Regions from separate parts of the Homo sapiens genome. Here region 1 is linked to region 2. The links come from fine-mapping of genetic effects on gene expression. A gene starts in region 2. The other region holds a variant in brackets. All regions are shown on one strand. Distances are between the middles of the regions.

Evidence for each region.
Region 1: its variant is fine-mapped to the expression of CCDC125 in skeletal muscle (FUSION, PIP 0.95).

What each region holds. Positions count from the first base shown.
Region 1 is chr5:69,284,633-69,287,544 of GRCh38, reverse strand. It overlaps CCDC125 (coiled-coil domain containing 125), which reads left to right. Exons shown (of 12, transcript NM_176816.5): 11 at 2,078-2,208. Among named protein-coding and RNA genes, the nearest start is that of CCDC125, 47 kb to the left of the region's middle. The variant T/C (reference allele first, on the strand shown) is at 1,274.
Region 2 is chr5:69,331,334-69,334,245 of GRCh38, reverse strand. CCDC125 (coiled-coil domain containing 125) reads left to right here and starts at 1,445. Exons shown (of 12, transcript NM_176816.5): 1 at 1,445-1,597. It also overlaps the pseudogene CHCHD2P2.

The DNA.
Region 1 (2,912 bases), 47 kb after region 2:
ACGCCTGTAATCTCAGGACTTTGGGAGGCTGAGGTGGGTGGATCACTTGAGGTCGGGAATTTGAGACCAGCCTGACCAACATGGAGAAACCCTGTCTCTACTAAAAATACAAAATTGGCTGGGTGTGGTGGCACAAGCCTGTAATCCCAGCTACTCGGGAGGCTGAGGCAGGAGAAATGTTTGAACCCGGGAGGCAGAGGTTGTGGTGAGCCAAGATTGCGCTGTTGCACTCCAGCCTGGGCGACAAAAGCGAGACTCCATCTCAAAAAAAAAAAAAAAAATTGATTAATCTCGCACAGCTTTTATAAATCTATACAAGTTTGAGTAGTTCTTTCTCAGTTTCTCAGTGACAAGACTTTAATTCATTTTATTAGTATATTTCAGTAATCTTAAGAGGTACAGGGTGATACAGATTATTTTATGTTTAGTAACACTTAATATCAACTTTCTTTTTGATATGGCAGTTTAGACAAGTTTCCGGAAGTAGTTTATAGGCATACTTCTTTCTTTCTTTGTATTTTTGCTTTTGGGTTTTTTTTTTTTTTTTTTTATCTTAAACTCCTGGGCTTAAGCAATCCTCCAGACTACCAGCTTGAGCCATCACACCAAGCTATTTCTTTTTTTAGACTGAAAATAGGGACACAGATTCATCTACTCATCAAAGTGTCAGTTTCTCTGACTTCTGTTTGCCACAGCTCCTCGTGGAAGGGGTCAGGGCCGCCCTCGTCACTGTGGTCTGTCAGGATTGGTGGGAAGGGGATCTCCCCTCATCTGCTCTCAGTTTCCCACTAAACCACTTTTGGAGAATATTCCAAAAACATTCTTGAAATTTTCCTTGTACAATCTGAGATTTTATAACTTCTGCAAATTACTTTCCTTCAATGGATGAAGAAGGACATCAATGATGTCAGCACGTGAAATATTAAATATTATGCTAATACCTGAGCAGGGCCTTTGACAATTGTGGTATTTTTTGTTGTTGTCGTGATGGTGGTAAAATATATCTAAAGTTGGCCGGGCGCGGTGGCTCACGCCTGTAATCCCAGCATTTTGGGAGGCCAAGAGGGGGCGAATCATGAGGTCAGGAGATCGAGACCATCCTGGCTAACACAGTGAAACCCCATCTCTACTAAAAATACAAAAAAATTAGCCGGACGTGGTGGCGGGCGCCTGTAGTCCCAGCTACTCGGGAGGCTGAGGCAGGAGAATGGCGCGAACCCGGGAGGCGGAGCTTGCAGTGAGCCGAGATTGCGCCACTGCACTCCAGCCTGGG[T/C]GACAGAACAAGACTCCATCTAAAAAAAAAAAAAAATTATATATATATATATATATATATATATATATATATATATATATATAGTTTACCATTTGAACTGTTTTTAAGTGGTATTAAGTATATTCACATTGTAATGTAACCTTCATCACCATCCAGCTCCAGAACATTTTCATCTTTCTTTACAGAGACCCTGTCCCATGAAACAGTAACTCCTCACTTCCCCTTCTCCAGCCCGTGTGATTTATTATTTAATGGCACAGTTCCCTGAGAAGAAGGTAATGCTATTCTCATTTTAGAGATGAGGAAATCAAGCTGAGAAAAGTCACCCGAGGTCATACAGTTAGTAAGTGGCTGAATGAGGATTCAAGTCCAGGTCTTTGCTGTTCGGAAGCAGAGTTTGCATGGCTCAGAGGCCCCCTGTGGCCTGCAGACATGTTTTGTTAGGTTGGCTTAGTGTAGTCAAACAATAAGACTAGTGGCTGACATTTAGAATTGGAAGATGTCATGACAGATCTGCATTTCTGGCTGCTCTTGAAGACTGTGATGATCCAGTGACATGGACTGTGTTCTTGTGTGGCCTGTGTGTCAGCTGGCACAGAGGGGTGGCTGTGCCGCATGGCAGGGCGGCACTCTTGCTGCCTCTCACCTGCATTGCTCCTGGCTCTGAAGGCTGTGCTCTGCTCACTACATTCCACTGTGTGCTCCTGGACTCACTTGTCCTAGAGATCAAGTTACCTCTTTTGCTGGAAGTATATCAGTGAGGATATTTTAATGTCTCAGCTGGATTCTCATGTTCAATTTTAGGATTTCCATCACCAAGGAGTAAGAAGACCTTCGGGCAGAGACTGTTGGGTATGCTCCCTTCAGAAAACAGTTCTAAGAGGATGGAAGACCAGGACAGTCCTCAAGAGGTCCTTAAGATGCTCATAGATTTGGTTAGTGTCTTTGCTTTTTTTTGCAGGTTATGGTTAAGCCAAGCTTGTCCAACCCACGGTCCGTGGGGAGCATGCAGCCCAGAACAGCTTTGAATGTGGCCCAACACAAATTCGTAAACTTTCTTAAAACATTATGAGATCTTTTTGATATATATATATATTTTTTTAGTTCATCAGCTATCATTAGTGTTAGTGTATTTTTTTGTTTTGTTTGTTTTTTGGTTTTTTTGTTTGTTTGGTTTTTGAGACAGAGTCTCTGTCACCCAGGCTGGAGTGCAGCGGCGCGATCTCGGCTCACTGCAACCTCCACCTCCCGGGTTCAAGCAATTCTCCTGCCTCAGCCTCTAGAGTAGCTGGGACTGCAGGCGCCCACCACCACGCCTGGCTAATTTTGTGTGTGCGTTTTTAGTAGAGACAGGATTTCACCATGTTGGCCAGGCTGGTCTCAAACTCCTGACCTCAAGTGATCTGCCCACCTCGGCATCCCAAAGTGCTGGGATTACAGGCGTGACCCACCATGCCCAGCCAGTGTTAGTGTATTTTATGTGTGGCCCAAGACAATTCTTCTTCTTCCAGTGTGGCCCAGGGAAGCCAAAAGATTGGACACCCCTAGGTTAAGCTAATCTATTTGCTTCCTGTTAATTCAACTCTTTATCTCTCTAGACTTGCACTTGCCTTCTATGTCCTTTTCCCAGTTGGAGTAC
Region 2 (2,912 bases):
TCATAGAAGCAAGGCTGCTGCTGCTGTGCCGGCTGGGTTCCCTGAGGCTCCTGGTAAGTGATGTCAGGCCTCGCAGGCTCAGCATTACTTCCTCCCCTGAAAGCCCCAGTAATGGCGTGACCCACAGCAGAGCCCACAGCCACGCCAGCTGCAGTGGTTGCCATCTGGGCCATCAGACCTGGCTGCCGGGGCGCAGCAGCAGAAGAGCCAACTACAGATGGGGGTGCCGCTGCTGGTGGCTGAACGACTGGTACTGGCCTGGGTGCAGCTCTCATCTGAGGGGGCCTGGCTGGCCGGAGGGGCCATGCGGGAGGTGCGGCTTCGGCTTCCACGCGGCATCCTAGGTACGCGACGGCTCGGCCTCCGGACGTGTGACGACCGGCTAAATTTTGTATTTTAGTGGAGATGGGGTTTCACCATGTTGGCCAGGCTGGTCTCAAACTTCTGACCTCAGGTGATCCACCCACCTTGGCCTCCCAAAGTGCTGGGTTAACAGGCGTGAGCCACCGCACCTGGCCCGATCTACCCTTCTCTTACAGGATTCCTAGAGACTTAATATTTTGGTTTTGGTTTGTTTCTTTTTTGAGACAGGGTCTCCACTCCGTCGCCCAGGCTGGAGTGCAGTGGTCACTGTAGCCTGGATCTCCCAGGCTCACGGGATCCTCCCACCTGACGGCCTCCCGGCCTCCTGAGTAGCTGGGACTACAGGTACGCACCACCACACCCGCTACTTTTTAATTATTTTTTTTTTTTGAGACGGAGACTCGTTCTGTTGCCCAGGCTGGAGTGCAGTGGCACGATCTTGGCTCACTGCAAGCTCCGCCTCCCGGGTTCACGCCATTCTGCCTCAGCCTCCTGCGCAGCTGGGACTACAGGCACCCGCCACCACGCCCGGCTAATTTCTTGTATTTTTAGTAGAGAAGGGTTTTCACTGTGTTAGCCAGGATGGTCTCAATCTCCTGACCTCGTGATCCACCCGCCTCGGCCACCTAAAGTGCTGGGATTACAGGCGTGAGCCACCGCGCCCAGCCCTACTTTTTAAATTTTTTGTAGAGCGGGGTCTCACTATGTTGGCCATGCTGGTCTCGAATTCCTGGCCTCAAGCGATCCTCCCGCCTTGGCCTCCCAAAAGCTGGGATTACAGGTGTGAAACCCCGCGCCGGTCTGAACCTCAATGTTTGAACCACCAAATTTTACCTGTATTGACACAGGCCCCGTCTTGTTGTTTTTCTAAATCTCATGTCATTGTTTGCATATTGGTTACCCGTGGTTGGCTTTGGAGCTGAAGGTGGACAGAGCTAACATCAGGTTGCACACAGGAACACAGTGAGGTCGCGAAAAAGTAGCGCGAGCTGCCTCCATGGCCCAGGGCGACCTCACCGGCGTTTCCTGTCTGGGACTGCGCCCACGCGGTCACGTGGTGGCCCGGAGGACGCGCGGCGGCAGCGGCGCACGCGCACGGAGAGGAGGCTACTTGCCAGGTGAGCGAGCTGAGTGGGGCGCCGGGGCGGTAGGAGGGTGCTGTTCGCTGAGCTGGAGTCCGGGCTCCGGTCCCCGCCACGGACCTTGAGAGGGTACCCGGGGTCAGACCTGGCAGGTGGGAACCGGGAGTGGGGAGGACCCAGGGCAGGGGCGGGATGCGCAGATTCGTGGAAACTCTGCAGGTTGTGGACAAACTGCCCAAATCCTTTTCCCTGAATGCCAGTTTAATGGCCTCGTCTGATAAGAAAAAAATAAGAAATAGATTTCAGAGACCCTATTTCTCTCTCTGCCTCTCCACCTGCTTTACTTTTTTTCTCTTCTGTTAATTTTGAGCCTTATAAAACTATAGCGCCAGTATCCTGGTTTGGATCCTGAAACAGAAAAAGACATTAGTGGAAAAAATAATAAAGGCTGTGGTTTAGTTAATAGCACGTACCCATGTTAATTTCTTAATTTCGACAAATTGTACACAAATGTTGACATTAGAGGAATTTGGGTAAAAGGTACACAGGAATTCTTAGTACTATCTTTGCAATTTACTGTACATCTAAAATTATTCTAAAATGAAAAGTTAAGAAACAAAATCCTAAAGCAAAGTGCAGCAGGCCATTGTTCACCAGGGAGGGCTCAAGTTAGTTCCTCTTTGTCATGGAGTTAGGCATGTTTGACCAACTTGTTTGCTAAGGCAGAGTTGTCAGGCTACTGAATGTAGATTCTTCTGTCCAAAGGTTTCCGGGCAGGAATCGGTTTTCTCTTTCGATTCTGTCAAATATCTTTGGAACACATGTTGTGCATAAGCAAACGAGACACACAAAGTCTCTGCATAAGGGAATATACAGTCAGTCTAGGTCAGGTAGGAAGTAAGCACTATTAAAAAGATTCAGTAAAACCTCCCAGAACTGGGAAGACTCAGATGTGGAAGAAATCACATCTGGTCCAAGGGAGTCAGGAAGGCTACTGGAGGGAGTGCTGTCCTGAACTGAGGGGGCTCTGAGAAGAAACAGCATTCCTGGGGTGAAGAATGGCACCAATAGAGGCTTGCAGGTGACCAAGCTGAGCTGAGGGAGGAGCCCTGGGAGCAAGTGCAGTTCCTCTTACGTGGAAGCGCAGAGTACATCCAGGGAGTACTGCCAGATGAAACTGGAGGTGAAAACTGTAGCTTTGTTGTAGAAAACAGGGTGACACTTCAGTTGGATACATTATTTTTATTTTTATTTTTTTGAAACGGAGTTTCGGCTGGGCGCAGTGGCTCACGCCTGTAATTCCAGCACTTTGGGAGACCGGTGAGCAGATCTCCTGAGGTCTGGAGGTCTAGACCAGCCTGGCCAACATGGTGAAACCCCGTCTCTACAAAAATACAAATATTAGCCGGGCATGGTGGTGGGCGCCTGTAATCTCCGCTACTGGGGAGGCTGAGGCAGGAGAATCGC